3 linked regions of the Homo sapiens genome follow. The protein of the gene in region 1 purifies or fractionates together with the protein of each later gene. This does not show direct contact. Each region holds a gene or a part of one and is shown in the gene's direction. Other genes may lie near its edges.

The links. The genes of interacting proteins can lie anywhere in the genome.
Region 2: the proteins of SLC12A4 (region 1) and RAB6B purify together in Homo sapiens (co-immunoprecipitation; 3 studies listed by BioGRID and IntAct, with this or other methods). This does not show direct contact.
Region 3: the proteins of SLC12A4 (region 1) and RAB6A purify together in Homo sapiens (co-immunoprecipitation; 2 studies listed by BioGRID and IntAct, with this or other methods). This does not show direct contact.

Annotation. Positions count from the first base shown.
Region 1 is NC_000016.10:67,965,624-67,972,921, reverse strand, and holds the start of SLC12A4 (solute carrier family 12 member 4), read left to right. Parts: upstream 1-4,368; coding exon 4,369-4,483; intron 4,484-6,127; exon of another isoform or gene 6,128-6,147; coding exon of another isoform or gene 6,148-6,169; intron 6,170-7,298. UniProt on the Homo sapiens protein: Mediates electroneutral potassium-chloride cotransport when activated by cell swelling. May contribute to cell volume homeostasis in single cells. May be involved in the regulation of basolateral Cl(-) exit in NaCl absorbing epithelia.
Region 2 is NC_000003.12:133,892,865-133,899,817, reverse strand, and holds the start of RAB6B (ras-related protein Rab-6B), read left to right. Parts: upstream 1-3,935; 5' UTR 3,936-4,351; coding exon 4,352-4,421; intron 4,422-6,953. UniProt on the Homo sapiens protein: The small GTPases Rab are key regulators of intracellular membrane trafficking, from the formation of transport vesicles to their fusion with membranes. Rabs cycle between active GTP-bound and inactive GDP-bound states.
Region 3 is NC_000011.10:73,751,057-73,758,078, reverse strand, and holds part of RAB6A (ras-related protein Rab-6A), read left to right. Parts: intron 1-7,022. UniProt on the Homo sapiens protein: The small GTPases Rab are key regulators of intracellular membrane trafficking, from the formation of transport vesicles to their fusion with membranes.

The DNA of each region.
Region 1 (7,298 bases):
GTCTTTAAAAAAAAATGAAAGAAAAAGAACAAGCAGAAATGTAAGACCCAGGCATGGTAGTGTGTGCCTGTAGTCCCAGGCACCCACCCTATACCCATTAAGCAGTTAACCACCACATGCTTTTTTCTGTTTTTTGAGACGGAGTTTTGCTCTTGTTGCCCGGGCTGGAGTGCAATGGTGCGATCTTGACTCACTGCAACCTCCACCTCCTAGGTTCAAGCAATTCTCCTGCCTCAGCCTCCCAAGTAGCTGGGATTACAGGTGCCTGCCATCACGCCCAACTAATTTTTGTATTTTTAGTAGAAACGAGGTTTCACCATGTTGGTCAGGATGGTCTTGAACTCCTGACCTCAGGTGATCCAACCACCTTGACCTCCCAAAGTGCTAGGATTACAGGCATGAGCCATGGTGCCTGGCCTGCTTTTTTTTTTTTTTTTTTTGAGACGGAGTCCTGCTCAGTCGCCCAGGCTGGAGTACAGTGGCATGATCTCAGCTCACTGCAACCTCCGCCTCCCAGGTTTAAGCAATTCTTGTGCCTCAGCCTCCGGAGTAGCTGGAATTACAGACATGTGCCACCACACCTGGCTAATTTTTCTTTTTCAGACAGAGTCTCGCTCTGTCTCCCAGGCTGGAATGCAGTGGCCCGATCTTGGCTCACTGCAACCTCCATCTCCTGGGTTCAAGTGATTATCCTGCCTCAGCCTCCTAGATAGCTGGGACTACAGGCACATGCCACCACGCCAGGCTAATTGTTTTATTTTATTTATTTATTTATTTTATTTATTTATTTTTATTATTATTATTTTGAGATGGAGTCTTGTTCTGTCGCCCAGGCTGGAGTGCAGTTGCCCAGGCAACTTGCACTGTTGCCCAGGCTGGAGTGCAGTGGTGCCATCTCAGCTCACTGCAACTTCCACCTCCCAGGTTTAAGCAATTCTCCCACCTCAGCCTCCCAAGTAGCTGGGATTACAGGTGCTTGCCACCACACCCATCCAAATTTTGTATTTTTAGTAGGGATGGGGTTTCACCATGTTGACCAGGCTGGTCTCGAACTCCTGACCTCAGGTGATCTGCCTGCCTCGGCCTCCCAAAGTGCTGGGATTATAGGTGGGAGCCACCACTCCCAACTGAATTTTGAATTTTCGATCTAGATATTCTAGATATTCCTGATTTATGGTTTTTTTTTTTTGAGACAGAGTCTCACTCTGTCGCCCAGGCTGGAGTGCCAGTGGCGCCATCTCCGCTCACCGCAAGCTCCACCTCCCGGGTACACGCCATTCTCCTGCCTCAGCCTTCCCAGTAGCTGGGACTACAGGCGCCCGCCACCACACCCAGCTAATTTTTTTATATTTTTAGTAGAGACGGGGTTTCACCGTGTTAGGCAGGATAGTCTCGATCTCCTGACCTCGTGATCTGCCCACCTCAGCCTTCCAAAGGGCTGGGATTACAGGCGTGAGCCACCGCGCCCGGCCTAATGTCTATGCTCCTCAAATGTCTTTTGAGTTTGGCCTGTGAGGTTATTTTTCCTGTGATGGCTGTGATATTGGAGAAGATGTGTACTGGCCTCGGAGTTCCCCATCGTCCCCTCTGTGTTTGTCAGTTGGGCTCTAGTGGCCTATCTCCCTGGCACAACACCCCACCCTACCCCTGAGGCTGCAGGGTGTGCAGTGCCAGGGTGGGAGCTATACGGAAACTTTGCAGAGCAAAGAGGTAGACTAAGAGGGCACCTGTTCATTCTTTATTTGAAAAATGTGTTGGGACCGGGAGCAGTGGCTCACGACTGTAATCCTAGCACTTTAGGAGAGGCCAAGGTGGGAGGATCGCTGAGCCCAGGAGTTTGAGACCAGCCTGTGCAGCAAAGTGAGACCCTGTCTCTATGAGAAATGAATAAATAAAATTAGCTGGGCATGGTGGCATCTTAGCTACTTGGGAGGCTGAGGGGAGAGGATCATTTGAGGAGTTTGAGGCTGCAGTGAGCTGTGATTGCACCACTGCACTCCAGCCCAAAGTGACAGAGCAAGACCCTCTCTCTAAATTAAAACAAACAAACAAACACCTCTAAGATCTTAAAAAAAAAAAATGTGTTGGGGCCAGCCAGGTTTTGAGGATACCAGAGTGACAAGACCGACAGGGTCCTGCCCTTGCAAAGTCCACAGTATAGATAGAATCTTAATCAGTGATTTCCACCAATCCATTTCTGCCTGCAATGGGAACTATGAAGGGAAAGGCTCAGGGCAGCCCAGTCCAGATGAGGGGTGGGGTGGGGTGGCAGGGCATGTGTCTGAGAAATCTGAGGGGAGGTGGTGCTCCCCACCAAGACCTCCTGGATCAGGAGGTTTTTTGTTTGTTTGTTTGTTTTTGAGATAGAGTCTTGCTCTGTTGCCCAGGCTGGAGTGCAATGGCACTATCTCGGCTCACTGCAACCTCTGCCTCCGTGGTTCAAGTGATTCTCCTGCCTCAGCCTCCCGAGTAGCTGGGATTACAGGCACCTGCCACCACACCCAGCTAATTTTTGTATTTTTATTAGAGACGGGGTTTCACCATGCTGGCCAGGCTGGTCTCGAACTCCCAGCCTCAGGCGATCCACCCGCCTTGGCCTCCCAAAGTTCTGGGATTACAGGCTTGAGCCACCAGGCCGGCCTTGGAGGTTTTTTGTCTGTTTGAGACAGTGTTTCGCTCTTGCTGGAGTGCAATGGCGCCATCTCGGTTCACTGAAACCTCTGCCTCCCGGGTTCAAGTGATTCTCCTGCCTCAGCCTCCCAACTAGCTGGGATTACAAGCACCCGCCACCACGCCCAGCTAATTTTTTTGTATTTTTAGTAGAGACGGGGTTTCACTATTTGACCACGCTGGTCTCAAACTCCTGACCTCAGGTGATCCTCCCGCCTCAGCCTCCCAAAGTGTTGGGATTACCGGCGTGAGCCACCGCGCCAGGCCTGGATCAGGAATTTGATAAGTGAGGGTAGGGACAGAGGCTAGGTAGATGTCCCCCAGAGTGAACAGTGGGTGATGCCCAGAAACTATAGGTCTCAGGTGAGAGAGAGAGATTTGAAGGGCTGAGGCTGCGAGGTGGGTGGCGAGGGATGCGCCTGCAGAGGTCGGGGTCCGGCCGCATTGGGCAGGGCCTTATGGGCCCGGAGCTAGTAGGATTTTCCTTCAGAAGAGGCGGCTCTACGTGAGCAGGGGCGAGGGCAGGGAGTCCAGTAGGAAGGCCGCTACTGTGGGCGGCCGAAGGTGGCGTGAGGGGCGGGGGGGTCAGGTCGGCGGGCCCGCTGCGGGGGCCCTGGGGGAGGGGTCAGAGGGTGGTAAGCTCGGGGGTCGTCTTGCGGGGCCCAGCGGCTCTGATTCCGTACCCCCCACCCCAAGGGCTGGAGGCTGGCAGTAGGCGTAGTCAGAGGACGCCACCCGAGCCACGCGAGGGAGAAGAGTGGAGATAGACAAGTAAGATGGGCTCTGGGGTTTTCTGATAGAGAAAAAAATAGTAAAGCCAGCTAGATAAGTAATCTGAAGCAGTGGAGAAGAAAGTGAAAGAAACGTTAAAAGCAAATAAGTAAACGGCTTGGATAGAGGAACACCCAGGAGGCGAGATAGAGAAAGTTAAAATGAAGGGACTTGGCTACAGCACCCAGTGCACTGTCCCAAAAAGGCAAGCGAGGCAAGCGGGGCGGGGAAGGGTGGGTGTGCGTGTTCTTCCTGCGGAGGACGCAGCAGCCCCTGGGGAGGGACCGAGAATCCCCAGCTGCCTCCAACAGGAGAGGCTGCAGCTAGAGGGCCCAGGGCTGGGACGGGACCTTCGCGGGGGTCTGGTTCCCAGGGTCGCGGAGAAATGGGATGCAGACGCTGGAAATGGGAAGGAGGTATACGGGGTTGGTGGGAGGCCCTGGGCAGGTGGCTTCTGCAGTCCTGGGCCGGTCCGGCCTACCCTGCCCCGTCCCTAAGTAACAGAGCGCTTCGTAAGCCCAGGGCGCAGAGCCAGGACACTCCGCGACCCATCTCACGGAGCCCTAAAACAACCCCGAGGTGGAAGTGTGTTTCCCCCATTTTACAAATGTTGCATCTGGGGCTCAGAGAGGGCGGCCTCTCACCCGAGGTCACACAGGAATCGGGCCCGCCCCCAGGCCGTGGAGCCACTAGGAGTGCTCCCGCCCAGGGGTCTTCCCGCCACCAGGGCCCCCGCTCTGGGAGGAGCCGGCCGAGCCCCTCCCGCTCTCCGCCCCCGAGGGGCGGCCCGGGGGGCGGGCGGAGGAAGTGAGCGCAGCGGGGAGGAATGCGAGCGGGCGGGGCGTGTCGGCCCGGGGCGGCGGGGACAGCGGCGGGGACAGCGGCGGGCGGCTGGGACGGCGGGTGCGGCGGGGCCGAGCCCGCACGATGCCTCACTTCACCGTGGTGCCAGTGGACGGGCCGAGGCGCGGCGACTATGACAACCTCGAGGGGCTCAGTTGGGTGGACTACGGGGAGCGCGCCGAGCTGGATGACTCGGACGGTGAGGGCGCGTTCTGAGGGGCCGTGGCGGGGCAGCGGGGCCTGCCACCCGGGGCCGCCATCCCGGGCCCGCGCCCGCACCTATCCCGGGACCTTGCGCGCACACGTCGGTGCGGACTCAACTTTTTTTGGACCGCGCCGCTGCCACTGGCTCCCCGCCCTGCGCGCGCAGACACGATTTTCCTCGGCCCCCGGCGCCCGCGCCCGGCCGCTTTCTCCACCCCAGCTCCTCCCCTGTGGGCCCCGGGCGGGGGCTGCAGACGTGGCCGCCCAGGGAGGCCAGCCGGCCGGGCCGCCCGGCTTGGGGACAGGGCCGAGACCCCATCTCAGGCCCTTCCCGGCCCTTCAACTTCGGTGAATCCCACATCCTTTTCTCGCCTCGGTTCCTCATTTGAGATTCAGCGTCTTTGCCTTTGAGACGATCCGCTCCCCAACTGCCCAAACCCCTCCGTGTGCCTCTCTGCGCCTACCTGCACTCTGGCCAGAGTGTGCCTACTGGGGGGTCTATGGGTAACTGCCCGTGAGTGCGCCGGTGTAGATCTGTAGGGACAGTGGGCCTCAGTGAAGCACTCACATGGAGCCGGACGTGTCTAGGCACTTGAAGTGAGTTAACTCGTTTAATCCTCCAGCATCACCCTTGGGATAAGTACTGTTACTCTCATTAGGAAGCAGTGAAGGGAGGGGTGGCGGTTATATAACTTGCCCAGGGGCAGTCAAGCCTGGGTTTGAGATTCCAGCACCTTAACTCTTTAACTTAGGTGCCAGGGCCGAGAGGTAAGCCCCATCTCCCTCCTCCTTCCTCCCAGGTGCCCGCGTCTCTCCACAGCCCTTTCTCTATCTCCTACCCCAGGAGGCCCCCCAGAGGGCTGTTCTTGTTAAGGCCCACCCTCGGAGCACGAACACGGCTGAGGACATGTGTCTGTGTACGTAGTGGCATATGCATGTGTAATTGTGCTTGTACAAGTGTGTAGCTGTGGGTATCACAGGGTGAAGGCTGGTTCAGGTCAGGGCATTCTCACAGCCCCTGTTTCCTGCAGGGTTGACAGTGATGAGGATGGTGATTTGACTGATGATAAATGCCTGTGATATCTGTGACCGATCATGATGGAGATATGTAGGAAGTGTGTGGTTGACACGTGTCAGGTGACGTTGTCTGGACCTCTGATCCATCTGTGATGGTGACACGACTGAGATGATCCATGCCCAATGTGAATGATGGCTATGTGTGTGTATCACTTGACTGCCATGTGCAGAGGTAGCACAGGACAGTGGCATGGGCTGCTGGACATTGCAGAGGTTTTACAGGCTTGACAGCTGTGTGAGTGCCCCAGCCTCCATGCCCTTGTCTGCCCCTAGCTTGATTCAAGTGGTCAAAGCAAAAGCCAGCATTCCTGCTTCCCTAACCCTGGGAGGACCTCTCTCCCCAGAGGGTAGACTGGGCTGCATCCCCAGGATCAGCCTGGACCAGTGGGCAGGCAGAGCTGAGCCTAGCTGCTGGCCCCACCTTGGCCACGCCTTGGCCCCTACAGGGTGACTGGAGGGACCTGGAGCTACATTGGCTGAGTCCTGCTAGATCCCCGCAAGCTAGGCCAGCTCCTCCCACTGCCTCCCTTCCTCTTTCTCCTCCTCTTACTCCTTTCCAGCCAGACCTTGGCTGTCTACAGGATGGGGGACACCCTGAGCCCCGGTGAGTGATTTTGATCCTTGGTGGGGACTGCAAAGGGTCAGAGGGCACAAAGCACAGTGAGCCTCAGATCTATCTCCTGCCCCTTCCCCAGTTCAGTGCCCACACCTCTGCTCTGGGAGGCCTAGATGGGCTTGCTCATCCAGCCCACCTTGGCCTGTGGGCAGGGGGTAGGGAGGTGCTGGAGGGGGCACCTCAGGCAGATGTCCGTGTACACAGGGATCAGGAGGGTCACCTGGATCCCCACCTGCCACTGGTGCAGTCACAGTTGCTGGTGGGAACACAGTTGTGTAGCTCACAGGCAGTCCCTAGGCCTAGGCCATATTCAGATTTACTGGGGATCTCAGGTGGTGTCTGAGCAGCTTCAGCCTGGCAGGCATGTCCAGACCTGCCCTGGAATTTTTGGAATGGCTGAGGCCAGAACAGGAGGTCTGAAGCCGAGGGCAGTACAGACATCCAGGCACTACTTAGACCCTTACATTCCCACAAGCCCTTGGGAGCTTTGGGGGAACTCCGAGGAGTGCCCACTGGGCGTCTGGCACTAACTGTCCCTTTTCTAGTGCATCTGGGCAGTTGGAAAAACAAGTGTTACAATCTCCACTTCATAGAAGAGGAAACCAAGGCCGCACAGGGAGTAAGCATGTCTCCCTGGGTCACACGGGGGAAGGTCTGGGAATCCAAGCCAGTCTGCCGCAGTCTGAATGCCCAGAGGCCTAGGTATGCGTACCCTGGCCAAATTGCAGCACTCTTCTCTATTTTTAAAGATTGTGCTGCATAGATGGACTGGAGTCTGTAGTAGGAACGGAACCTGCAGCTCCGCCCCTACAGGGCTCTGATGGACCCTGGGACCCAGATGTGGCCTTCTCCCTGGGTGACCTTGCCTCTGAACATCTTTGAGCTTCACTCTCCTTGTCCCTAAAAGGTAGTAAATGCTCTCTACTGGAATGTTGCTGTGAGAACTAGAGACAACTTTTGGAAGGGCCCCGAGCCATCCTAGAGTGATAGCTGAAGGGACAAGGGATAGGCTAGGTCTTAGAGGACCATTTACAGGCATTTGTGGGGAGCTGCTGTGTGCTCAGCTGTATATTTTCTGGATAGCAATACAGTCTACCCAGAAAGACCAGGCAACAGT
Region 2 (6,953 bases), on another chromosome or scaffold:
ATAAAATTCAAAAGATGCAAAACAAAAAAGTATTGTTGGAGGACACATCCAAATGTGATAAAAACTCAAAGAAAAGCCACAGTTCTGGATTTTCAAGCTGGGGAGAGAGGGAGGGGCAGAAACACCTGAGGGCCTCAAAAGTACTGTAATATTTGAGTGCTCCAGCCAGGTGAAGTGAAAAAAACAATCCCAAAGGGTGATATACTGTGTAATGCCACTTATATAAGATTCTTGAAATAACACATTTATTGAAATGAAGAACAGATTAGTGGTTGCCAGAGGTTAGGAAGGGGTTGAGGGTGGGAGGAAAGTGGGTGTGGCTATAAAAGGGGAACATGAGGGCTCTTTGTGTGTCAAGGTACAGAACAGAAATGTACCTTGACTGTCTTAATTCCAGTATCCACATTATGATACTGTAGTATAAAGTTCTGCAAGATCTTACTCTTGGTGAAAACTAGATAAAGGATATACAGATCTGTCTTTTTTTTTTTTCCTGTTTGTGAATCTACAATGATCTCAAAAATTTAATTTAAATATATATATATATATATATAACACAGCAAAGGGCTCAGGAAAACCAAGATCTTGAAGAAAATGAAAAATATAGATGATGCTGTAGTGCTATATGATCTAACGAATATCTTTGAAAAATAGTTTGGCACAAAATTAAACGTACACTTGTTTTTATACCACAATTTACCTACTGACACATATCTTAGAAAAACTTCACAGAGGCATCAAGAGACATGTAAAGAATGTTGATGGCAGCATTGTTTGTTAATAGCAGAAACAAAACTGAGTGCATTTTCCAATGTTAATTTCCTGGTTTTACTAAGCAATGTGGTTATGTAAGATGTTATCACTGGGGTAGCTTGGTGCAGGATACATAGTAACTCCCTGCACTGTTTTTTATAACCTCTATGTGAGTATAAAATTATTTAAAATAATTTTAAAAAAGGCCAGGCGTGGTGGCTCACACCTGTAATCCCAGCACTTTGGGAGGCTGATGCAGGCGGATCACGAGGTTAAGAGATTGAGACCATTCTGGTCAACATGGTGAAACCTCGGCTCTACTAAAAATAAAAAAATTAGCTAGACCTGGTGGTGCGTGGCTGTAGTACCAGCTACTCGGGAGGCTGAGGCAGGTGAATTGCTTGAACCTGGGAGGCGGAGGTTACAGTGAGCCGAGATGGCGCCGCTACACTCCAGCCTGGTGACAGACCAAGACTCCATCTCAAAAATAATAACAACAATAATAAAATAAAATAAAATAAAAATTTTAAATGACACATTTTACAGAAAATCATTTAAAAATTGGGGCATAACTAGAATACTAACCAGCAGTGAAAATGAAAGAACTGCTGCTACATGAATTAACAAATGGATCTCAGAAACATGATGTTAAGAAACATGCAAGTCAGGACAGAAAACACAGTTTGATACCTTATATAAGATTCAAAAGATGCAAAACAAAACAAAGTATTGTGAAGGACACATCCAATGTGATAAAACTCAAAGAAAAGCTAAGATTCTGGATTTCCAAGTTGGGGAGGGAGGAAGGAGAAGAAAGCACCTGGGGGCCTGAAAAGTACTATAATATTTGAGCCCTCCAGCTGTGTAGAGGGTAAATGGGCACTCAGAGTGATAGGTTTTCTTTGTAACTTACATATACACAGCACATACTAAATAGGAAGATTTAAAGAATTTTTTTAAATGGAATGCACAGATTCTATGATATGGAAGAAACTCTTTCTAGTGAGGTTGCCAGGCTGAGGTTCAGTGGCCCCATTTTCCACCTGGAGAAAGTCTGTCTGCTTTAGGGCAGGTTAAGGACAAGACTCAAAATCAGGGGAGATAAGCAATGATAGTTGGAGGAGAGAGACTTGGAGCAGAGCAAACTTGGAGTCTCTAAGGCTCTCATTTCCACAGCATGATGACTGCATTCTGAGAGCAATGCCAGTATCTGCTCCAGCGACGTGAGCCCGGTAGTCGGAGCCGGGTTTTTGTCATTTGAACTGGAAGAATTATGACAGAGTCCCCCAAAGTAAGCTGGACCATAGTCAGCCCAGCTGGACCTGGTAAGCATATGGGATGACTTGGAGGCTTAGAGGTGCCCAGAGGGGCCCTGCCCCAGCCCTCCCTCCCCTACTGCCATACCACCTTACATGTGCGGGACCAGATGATCAGAGGAGGTACAGGACCTGCCTAGGCTTACCCAAAAGATGGTGCCTTTTCTGGCACACCTCAGCTGTTTTGTCTTGCCACCGATGATCTCATCAGGTCAGGATGAGAGGGTACAGGGAGACAGCACTAGATGTTAGGAGAAGGTGCAGGTTGGAGGAGTGTTGCATGGCTGGGTACCTTGGCCAGTAGCTCACTGGCCCTTCTTTGGAGGGATCACTTATAGAGACGGGAAGGGCTGTGACTTGGGAGTCTCCTCTCCTTTCAGAGCTTTCTTCAACCCCAAGCTGGATATGGTCTCCTAAGAGAGCAGGAGCCCCAGAGAAGTGGGTGGGTGTCTGGAGGGTTACCCTGAGCCTGGTGCCAGCCACAACGGGGCAGATATTCTAGGTGATGACTTACAATCCCTGGGGTTCCAAACTAAAGGTAATTATGAGAATAGGACAGTTATTTTGATTTGAGTTCTAGATGTTCATTCAAACATTCAACAACTATTTCTTAAACTCTGAGCTATGTCCTTGGGATGCAGTGGTGGAGCTTCAACTACTGCTTTTATGGAACTTGTGGTCAGGTTTCTAACAAGAAATAGGAAAGAGATTCGAGGTGAGCACACCAGGGAGACAGATAGGCTTGCCCAAGCAAGCCCCATAAGTCAAAAAGGGGGTAACAAGTGTCCACGAGAAATCTGGAGGTGAAGGTTGTGTCTCACTCCTCTTTCTCTTTCTATAACACATGCGTGCACACACCATCGTGTTCACCGACATGCAGATTATTATCTCAAATAAATGCTCACTGAACAGCCATAAATGAACAAGACCACGCTGTGGCAGAACAGTAAGGGACAGCTTTGTAAAACCTCAATTAACCAGCATGCCTTAGGCTCGGGCTGTCTTGGGAGTGTTTCTAGCACTTGGCGTCTGCTCTTTGCTCTCACTCACTCACAACTTGGTCTGTGTGCCTCGATGGACCAGGCAAGTAGAGGCCAAGGAGAGGTCGCCCACATGTCCTCAGATAGCTCATTGTCCAGATACACCTAATTGCCAGGGTGGGGAGTGGCATTGTCAGCCTGGCGACCCCGGGATCAAGAAACGCAGGGCACTGTCCTGGAGATAGTGGCACTGGCATTCAGAGCGTCACCGTTCCTTCTCTCCCATGGGGCAGGTTAGGATTTGGCATAAAATGATCCAAATGAGCAGCTGGTTTGAGGTAGGCGCGCCTGATATTGGCAGCTCCTCTCTCGCTGGCCAGGTCTGCGGGGGCACCCACAGACTCCACAAGAGGCCGCCCAAATAAAGGGTCTAGGCCTCGAGAGGGAAGGGCGGGCTAGAAGCCACGGGGGGCAAGAGTCGAGCCCCATCTGCGCCAAGTACGCCAGGTTTCCCTAGGTCTGACCGCCCTGACGGGCCTCGCCACACCCTGGCTCTCCCCCACCTTCGTTCCTTTCCGCCCTGTCGGTCGGACGACTGCGCTGTGCATCGGTGTCTCGCGAGGTGGAGGAAGGGACTGGCATCTAGGTTTAAAAGACCAGAAACAAATGTCCCCTGACAATTTCTGTCATTTTCTGGATTCAAAAGAGGGGTAGAGTGGGGAAGACAGACGCAGCGGGGCAGCGAGACACGGTCCCCCCCGGGGGGCTCTCAGGGGTACGGCGAGGAGGTTCTCTCCTGCCCGGGTGCGGGCTCGGGTGGGCGGGCGCACGCCCCCCAGCCCCGCAGCCCCGCGGGCCCCGCATGACATCAGAGGCTGGGGAGCGCACAGAGCGCAGGCGCCGGCGGAGGAGGCAGGCGGGAGGGGGCCGACTGGCGCGGCTCTGGAGAGCGCTCCTCCGCCCCGCGCGCCGTCCCTGCGCCCCGCTCCGCCCGCGCCTCTCTCCCAGCGCCGCGCCTCGGGCGTAAAGAGCGCGCCCCTCGCACCGCAGCCAGTGCCGACCGCAGCAGCCCAGCCCCAGCCTTCCTCCGCCTCCGCCTCTCTCTCCTCCTCCTCCTCCGCCGCCGGACACGCAGCCGCAGGCCGGGACCGGGACGCAGCTGGGGAGTCAGGGACGCGCGCAGCCAGCCCTTCCCCCTCCGGCTCCCGCACCGCCGGCCGCCTCCCCTCGCCCTCCTACTCTCCCCTCCCTGCTCCTTCGCTTTTTCCTCCTCCTCCTCTCCCGGCCCCGGCTGCCAGCACCATGTCCGCAGGGGGAGATTTTGGGAATCCACTGAGAAAATTCAAGTTGGTGTTCTTGGGGGAGCAGAGCGGTAAGTACCCGGCTTAATCTCTTGGCTTGTCGCCGAGTCGACCCCCGCCGCCCAATCGCCCACCCCATTGGGACCCCCGGCCCAGGCTCGGAAAGGCCCCTCCTTGCCAGGGTAGAGGAGAGGGACAGGGATGGGGAGGTCGGGGCGGGGTCGGGCTGGGGAGGGGCCAAGGGTGAGGACGGAGGAGGCGCTGGAGCCTGGGGTGGAGGTGAGGGTGGGCTCTGGGTGGGGGGCCCGGGGTGTGGGTGCAGGTGCGGCGCTGCAGGGGGCCCGGAGGGCGGCGGCTGGCTCCGCGGCGCTGGCCAGGGCGTGAAGGAACCGGGCTCGCTGGCTAGCTCACACTGCGGCACCGGCTGCGGGCGACCGCGCAGGTGGCTGGGTGCTGGCGGGGGTGGGGAGAGCGACGGGCGCCCCCCTTGGAGAACGAAGCGAAGCTGGGGTCTGGCCGGGCCTCACTCCGCTGCACTGGAGGGGTGTTCCCTGCGGACCCTGCTGGGAACCATGCGAAAGGGCACGTCCAGGGCGTGGGACAAACAGCCACCGGGGAGAAAAGAGCGACACCTGTCTCTGCTCGAAAGAGCGAGTGCAGGCCATGGGGGAACGGGGAGCCTACCTCCCCTGGCTCACGTCCGACTGGGCACAGAAGGTTCTAGACCCGCTGCCCTTCGCCGGCGCTTGTTAGTCTCCTTGCTGCCCAGGGATCTGGGCAATTGCAGTGAGGGCTACCCCAACTCGAGGCGATTTGGGGAATGATACAGGGGCACCTCACACCGAGAGGCTGTGAAGTCTGGCTCTGGGCAGAGAAAGGCCCAGGCGACACGCCCTGCCTAGCTTCCCAGCACTCCTCCAGAGAGCATCGGTGGATTCTTCCCACCCCCACCTCCCAGCTCACCGCCCTTCTTGGGGGAGGGGAGGTCACCCTGGCAGTCGGCCAGAGCTGGGGGAGGGGGAGACTGCTTCTCCGCTGCCCGGCTCCCTCCCCAGGAAAACATCTCTGAAAACCAGGTTAGTCCCTAGAGGCGGGAAGCCCAGATTGAAGGGCAGGGACCCCTCTGCCACCTGTAGGAAGGAGTGGCTTTCAGAGCATCCCTCCAGAGGCCTCTCGCATGGGGCTGCAGGGAGACAAACTGAGCTCTGGTCAGCTCTGCTCTGGGAGAAGGCTGTCCTTGCGGGACAGGACCCCAGCTCTGCCTCTGCAGACCAGTCCTGTTCACCTGGGTTGGTGCCTCTCTGACAAGGGGGCCCAAAAGAAAGGCAGCTGTGGGAGGACTGGGTGGGCCCAGGAACAGTGCTACTGTGCTGTGTGTACATGAGGGTTATGGAGGTCACGTGGCTGGCTCTTGTCTGCTGATACTCATTGCCTAAGATGGATGGTTCAGAGAAGGACGTTAGAAGGTAGTGTCCAGGCCCAGTATGGAGATGGGTTTGGGGGACAGGCTGGGCATTTCAGAAGAAGATCCACTCAGCCAGCCAGCGTTTGCCCTGGATTCTGATTGCCTGTTTTTAATAGATCCCAGTTTCATAGAGCTGACCATACCCTGTGTCTGGAAGGGATTTTGGTGGTATTCACATCCCAGTGCTAGTCTCACCCGGCCTGGAGCCCTGGGAGATAACCTGCAGGGATCAGGCAGCCTGGGGGTTGAATTCTTAGCTGTGTTGTCTTTAGTAAAATTTGAGGCCTCTCTGTGACTCACTTTCTGTCTCTGAAAAATGGTTGCTTGAAGACAATTCTCTTACTTCTTCATGTTTCTTTAGTGCCTCTCAAAGTGCCTGGCCCCTGGTAGGTTCTCAGCAAACATTTGTTCTAAGTCTGCACAAGCTTCAGAAAGGACTAGGAGTTTGGTGAAGAAAGTGTCTCTGGTGAGTTTGAGGGAACATCTGGGCTCCTTCAGAATCCCTGATGAACGGAGGCCCCTGCTGGGCTCCACAGACCCCCTTTGCTCCCAAAATCACAGAAATGAGAGCTGAAGCCTAAGAAATGAACCCACCACCTCTCCCATATGTTCAAATGGGAAGTCTGAGCCCCAGGGAACAGGGAGGCCTTGCCTGGAGTCCCAGAGTCCCATTGTGAGTTGCTAATGCTTCTGGGCTGGAGCCCCACCTCTCATTTCCAGTCCAATATTTTTCACTAGCGTGTCATTGTGAAGTAAGATGACCTTGAATTGGGGAAGCCAACAACTGGGGAGCCTCCCCAAGAGGGAGTAAGGGTTGCTTCTGTCCAGCCAGGCTTATAGTTGGGGCTTGTGACTGGTAGGAATGCTGAGTAGTTGGTAAGGAGCAGGGTTGTGAGCCCTTGGAACATGGTCATTAGAGAGTCACTGCTATCAGTGAGATGGGCTGCTGGCCACCCTGGTGCCTTCTGTCAGGGAGTCCCAAGGCCCTGAAAAGCCTGTTTCCAATTTGTTGCATTGTTAGTGGGTTCTTTTAGGTTTTACACAGCTTTTGAGTTAGGTAGGGGACATGTATGTGCATCTCTAAGCCTTATGGGATGGGGAGTCACCTCCACAGCCGCTTCTTCTACCTTGCCTGCAC
Region 3 (7,022 bases), on another chromosome or scaffold:
GTTAGAATTCCACAATTCAGCTTTCAAAGACTGTAATCTATGGCAAAGCCTTGTTTCTTCTTAATAGCATTTACCACATTTACAATTATCTTATTTTTTATGTGTTTGTTTTTATTTCCCACAGAAGAATGCAACTCCCATGAAGATAAAAACTATTCTTTTTTGTTCAGTGTGTCCCCATTGCCTAGCGTAGAGCCAGGCTCATAGTAGCTGTTCAGACATGTTGGGTAAATGAATGATGGCTGAATCTAGTAGTAACGAAAGCTAGTAGCCTATGTTACACTCTTTGACATGGTTACGCAATTGATAGTTTAACAATAACACTTAAAACTTACATCATTTGATTGTATACAGGAATATATCAGATACTTAAGGGGGTAGAGAAACCAATCGTTTAGAGGCCCAACCATTTCATTCAAAAAATAGGACTGACCTGAATTTTGTACTTTTTTTTGAGTTGAGCAAAATTCGTCTTCCTTTATTAAAGTTGTTAAATTATTTGCTATTAATGTAACGCATGAAAAGTATTCAAATTATACCAATGATGTGCTCATGGAACTGATTTGAAATTAGGTTTTATTTGGCTTATCAAAAATTTAAGATACTAGGCTGGGTGCGGTGGTTCATGCCTGTAATCCCAGCACTTTGGGAGGCTGAGATAGGTGAATCATCTGAGGTCAGCAGTTCAAGACCAGCCTGGCTAACATGGTGGAGTCCCCGGCTCCCCCCCACCCCATGGCCCGGTCTCTACAAAAATACAAAAATTATCCAGGTATGATGGCGGGTGGGAGCCTGTAATCCCAGCTACTCAGGAGGCTGAGGCAGGAGAATCGCTTGAACCTGAGAGGCGGAGGGTGCAGTGAGCTGAGATCATGCCATTGCACTGCAGCCTGGGTGACAGAGTGAGACTCTGTCTCAAGAAAAAAAAAAAAAAAAAAAAAAAAAAAAATATATATATATATATATATATATATATATATGTATGTATATTTAAGATACTACGCTCTATAGTGAAAATGAATTGTGTCAGTACATGAAGCAGATTGAGTTAATGACATCAATCTTAACCTTAGATAAATTCTTACGGTTTAATAAAGGAATGTTTGGCTGGGCGTGGTGGCTCACGCCTGTAATCCCAGCACTTTAGGAGTCCGAGGCAGGCAAATCACCTGAGGTCAGGAGTTCAAGACCAGCCTGGCCAACATGGCAAAATCCCATCTCTACTAAAAATCCAAAAACTAGCTGGGCGTGGTGGCGTGTGCCTGTAATCCCAGCTACTCAGGAGGCTGAGGCAGGAAAACTGCAACCCAGGAGGTGGAGGTTGCAGTGAACTGAGATTGCCCCACTGCACTCCAGCCTGGGCCTCAGAGCGAGACTTTGTCTCTAAATAAATAAATAAAGGAATGTTGAAATACACAATTGGAAGTTTCCTTGAGGAGTCTGTTTTGTTACTACCTCTGGCTATTGTCTTGAGATGCAGAGGCAGTTTTAGTAATGTCACTCAGTGGTTTACAGTAGAAGATTTCACTATATATACATGTTACCAATTATAAATTAGGAGATGTAATGGCAGAGAGAAGCGCATACTCAGCCTACTACTGTTTTTTTCACTTTATATTGCCTTTTCTTTTTTTCCATCAATGCTGATCAAATTGCAATATGTTAGATAAGGAAAAAATGTCTTATTGTCAGAGACTAGCAGTACTGACCAGTTGTTTTTCTTTTGAGACGGGGTCTACCTCTGTCACTCAGGCTGGAGTGCAGTGGTGTGATCTCAGCTCACTGCACCCTCCACCTCCCAGGCTCAAGTGATCCTCCCACCTCAGCCTCCCAAGTAGCTGGGACAACAGGCACGCACCACCACGCCTGGCTAATTTTTGTATTTTTTTGTAGAGATGGGATTTTACCATGTTGCCCAGGCTGGTCTCAAAGTTTTGAGCTGGCGAGATCCTCCGGCCTCAGCCTCCCAAAGTGCTGGGATTACAGGTGTGAGCCACCACGCCTGGCCAGTACTGAACATTTTATATTGGCTAGATCAGTGGTTTTTAAACTTTTTTTCCCCAAGACCCCTTTCTGCTCTTACAAATTTTTGAGGATCCTGAAGAGCTCTGTTAATGTAGTTGTTATTGTTGTTCTTCTTCCTCCTCCTCCTCTTCTTTCTCCTCCTCCTCTTCTTCCTCCTCCTCTTCCTTCTCCTCCTCCTCTTGTTCTTCTTCCTCCTCCTCCTCTTCTTTCTCTTCCTTCCCCCTTCTCCCTTCCTTCCCCCTTTCCACCTCCCCCTTCCTTTCCTTTTCTCCCTTCCTTCCTCCTTTCCTCTTCCCATTTCCTTCCCCCTTCTTGGATGCAGTGACTGTTCACAGGGGCTATCATGGCCAACTGCAGCCTTGTCTCAAGCTCTCCTCCTGCCTCAGCCTCCCTAGTAGCTGGGACTATAGGCACATGCCACTGTGCCTGACTTTTGTTTATGTAGTTTATGTCAACATTTAGGCCGGGTGCGGTGGCTCACGCCTATAATCCCAGCACTTTGGGAGGCCGAAGTGGGTGGATCACCTGAGGTCAGGGGTTCGAGACCAGCCTGGGCAACATGGCGAAACCCCGTTTCTACTAAAAATACAAAATTAGCCGGGCATGGTGGTGCGTGCCTGTAGTCCCAGCTCTTCGGGAGGCTGAGGCAGGAGCATTGCTTGAACTCGGGAGGTGGAGGTTGCAGTGAGCCAAGATCGTGCCACTGCGCTCCAGCCTGGGCAACAGAGTGAGGCTCCATCTCAAAATAAATGAATAAATATATCAACATTTACTGTATTGAAAAAGAAAATTTCAAAATATTTAATATGTTAAAAAATAATAGGGCCGAGCGTGGTGGCTCATGCTTGTAATCCCAGCATTTTGAGAGGCCGAGGTGGGCGGATCACTTGAGGCCAGAAGTTTGAGACCAACCTGGCCAATATGGTGAAACCCCGTCTCTACTAAAAATACAAAGAAATTAGCCTGGCATGGTGGTGGACGGTCCCAGTGGTAGTGCCAGCTACTCAGGAGGCTGAGGCAGGAGAGTCCCTTGAACCCGGGAGGTGGAGGTTGCAGTGAGCCAAGATCACGCCATTGCACTCCAGCCTGGGCAACGAGCAAAACTCCATCTCAAAAAAATAATAATAATAATAATAAACCCATTGCATGTTAATACCCTTTTTTTTTTTGACTGCATCCCTCTGTTGCCCAGGATGGAGTGAGTGCCTCCCGGGTTCGCGATTCTCATGCCTCAGCCTCCTGAATAGCTGGGACCACAGGTACATGCCGCCATGCCTGGCTAATTTTTTGACTTTTTAGTAGAGACAGGGTTTTGCTATATTGGCCAGGCTGGTCTCAAACTCCTGGCCTCAAGTGACCTGCTTGCCTTGGTCTCCCAAAGTGCTGGGATTACAGGCATGAGCCACTGTGCCCAGCCTTCATGTTAACATCATTTCTGAAATGAAAAAGAACTATTTTCCAAACAGATATTTAGTGAGAGTGACATTGTTTTACATATTTGCAAATCTCTTTAATGTCTGACTTAATAGAGGACAATTGGATTTGCATAGCTGCTTATGCATTCAATCCTGTAATATTACACATCATATAGGCACGGGGAAACTCCACAATACATTTCAAGAGAGTAAGAGTGAAAAATTCAAATAACATCTTAATCTTATGAAAATGGTTTTGACATCCAGGAGTTTGTGGACCTCCCCAAAGGTCTTGGGAGATCCTAAGGGGTCAGTAGACCACTCTTTGTAAACTGCTGGGTTAGGTAATATCAAGTCAATTGTATCTCCTGTTATAATGTTGCCAGTTTTTCATATCTTGTTCTGAAGCCTTAAAACTGCGTGGTACATACAGTTAATGATTTAGAGCACTAGAGGACTGGTAGAGATGGAGAGTAAGAGTCTAGGTTTCATGTTTTAGCAGTGGCTACTGACCTTTGGCAGATTACTCAACATGTCTTTATGCCCCATTTTTCCTTATCTATAACATAAAGATAATAGACCTATCATAGAGTTATTGTGACATTTAAACTAGTCAAATAATGCAAAACATTTAGAAGAGTGCTGGGCACATGAGAAGTGCTCAGAAAGTGTTTTAATTTAACAAATCTTTATTGAAAATTGCTACAGTGTCAGGTGGTTTGGTAGTGCTTACTTTTAAGGAATTTACGTTTTATCAGGGAAGAAATACACAATACTTAATACAATATAGCATGATGAGTGCCACTGCTTTTAAAAGTAGAGCTAAGGCTGGGCGTGGTGGCTCACGCCTGTAATCCCAGCACTTTGGGAGGCCTAGGTGGGCAGATCACTTGAGGTCTGGAGTTTTTTTGTTTTTTTGTTTTTTTTTCAGACGGAATCTCGCTCAGTCACCGAGGCTGGAGTGCAGTGGCGCAATCTCGGCTCACTGCAAGCTCTGCCTCCCGGGTTCATGCCATTCTCCTGCCTCAGCCTCCGGAGTAGCTGGGACTACAGGCGCCCGCCACCATGCCCGGCTAATTTTTTGTACTTTTAGTAGAGACGGGGTTTCACCGTGTTAGCCAGGATGGTCTCGATCTCCTGACCTCGTGATCTGCCTGCCTCGGCCTCCCAAAGTGCTGGGATTACAGGCATGAGCCACTGTGCCCGGCGAGGTCTGGAGTTGGAGACTAGCCTGGCCAACATGGTGAAACCCTGTCTCTACTAAAATACAAAAAATTAGCTGGGCATGATGGCGTGCATCTGTAATCCCATCTCAGGAGGCTGAGGCAGGAGAGTCACTTGAGCCCGGGAGGCAGAGGTTGCAGTGAGTGGCCATGTTGGCCAGGTTAGTCTTGAACTCCTTGCTGTCTCACCCAGGCTACAGTACAGGGGTGCCATTATAGCTCACTGCAGCCACGAGCTCCTGGGCTCAAGTGATCCTCCCACCTCAGCCTCTGGAGCTGTTGGGATTAGAGGCATTCGCCATTGCGCTCGGCTGATTAAAAAAAATTTTTTTAGCAAACGAGGTCTTGCTGTGTTGCCAGGCTGCTTTCCAACTCCTGGCCTCAAGTGATTCCCGCCTCAAGCTCCTGACTCTGGAATTACAGGCATGCACCACCTCACCTGGCTTGGACTTTTTATTAGACTTCCTGATTTTATTTCATCTGGTCTCTTTCATTTCCTTAAGCTTCTGTTTTAATTCTCATAAGATTTTTCTCAACTTTCTTCCATTTTTTTATTATTTTTTTCTGCTATCATTTTAATTTTTTTTTTCTTTTTTTTGAGCTGGAGTCTTACTCTGTCACCCAGGCTTGAGTGCAGTGGTGCAATCTCAGCTCACCGCAACCTGTGCCTTCCAGGCTCAAGTGATCCTCCCACCTCGGCCTCTTGAGTAGCTGGAACCACAAGCATGCGCCACCAAGGCCGGCTATTTTTTGTATTTTTGGTAGAGATGGCGTTTTGCCATGTTGCCCAGGCTCATCTCGAATTCCTGAGCTCATGCGATCTGCCTGGCCTCGGTCTCCCAGAGTGCTAGGATTACAGGCATGAGCCACCGTGCCAGTTCTTATCATTTTAATTTCAAAGAGTGTTTTTGTTCATCTTCTGAATGTTCCTTTCTGTAGCATCTGTGTTTTTGTTTTTTTGAGACAGAATCTTGCCCTGTCACCCCGGCTGGAGTGCAATGGTGCAATCTTGGCTTACTCCAACCTCTACCTCCCGGGTTCAAACGATTCTCATACCTCAGTCTCCTGAGTAGCTGAGATTACAGGCATCTGCCACCATACCTGGCTAATTTTTGTATTTTTAGTAGAGACGTGATTTCACTGTTTGTCAGACTGGTCTCGAACTCTTGACCTTCAGTGATCTGCCCCCTTGGCCTCCCAAAGTGCTGGGATTACAGGTGGGAGTCACCACACCCAGCCTTCTGTAGCATCTTTTTAATTCCCAATTTTTACCTTTTCTTGTCATTTTGAAGATGTTAATAAGATACATGACTTTTTTCTTCCTGCATATTTAGTTTTTGTAAATTGTTTTTCATCTCTGCTTGTTTTAGTTTCTCTATTTCCTGTTTGATGTGGTCCTCAAAAAACTAGTGTTTCTTGGCTATTTGCTTCTATTTAAGAGGTGAGCACTGAGAGTTGTGTTTTTGTTTTTGTTTTTTATGCTCTTGTGTGGGTTTGTGGGTCTTTACTGCAGAATGATCTTGCTGAGTTCCTTTTTGGGAGTCTCTGATGTTAGGTCTTTAAGTCTTTTTGCTGGTCAGATTCCCTGAAGAAGAATTACTCAGTGCACTGCTGGAGAGAATCTTGGTTGTCAGTGTTCTTGGAGGTGAATGGAGAGAGGGTTTGAAGTCATAACATACAGTAAATGCATTTAGTCTCCTTGCTTTTAATATTGTTTGTACTCTATCCCTCAGCTGTACCTTGTAATCCCTAGTACAGAAACCCCGTTTTTCTTTCTCAGCAGCATTATCTTCTAATTTTCAGCTGTGTTGAACAGAAGAGGGAATAGAAGAGAGTGTTAATCTACTTGTTAAATAGACTTTCATCCCTTCCTTCTGTTTTTAGCTCCATCTTTACCTTTATTTCTAGATGTACTTGGCCCAGACAATTCCTAAGTCAATGGGGGTTCTGTGGTCCAAATCAGCTTTCTCAGCTTTCCCCATTGTCGGTTTAAAATTGATCATTATTGAGTCTTTTAGGTCAATTACTACTTTTCCATTTGCTTTCTACTTTCTAACTTGGATGATTCAGATTTTCCGAGAACCAACACTTAATACTTGCTTAGGGTTGGTTAGTTGGTTTGTTTTTTGAGACGGGGTCTTTCTGTGTTGCCCAGGCTGGAGTGCAGTCCATTCACAGGCATGATTATAGCGTACTACAGCCCGGAACTCCTGGCTCAAGTGATCCTCCTGCCTCAGCCTCCTGAGTAGCTGGGACTATAGAGTCAGGCCAGTGAGCCTGACTCTTTTCTTTTTTAAAAGTACACTTTGGCCGGGGGGCATGGTGACTCACACCTGTAATCCCAGCACTTTGGGACACT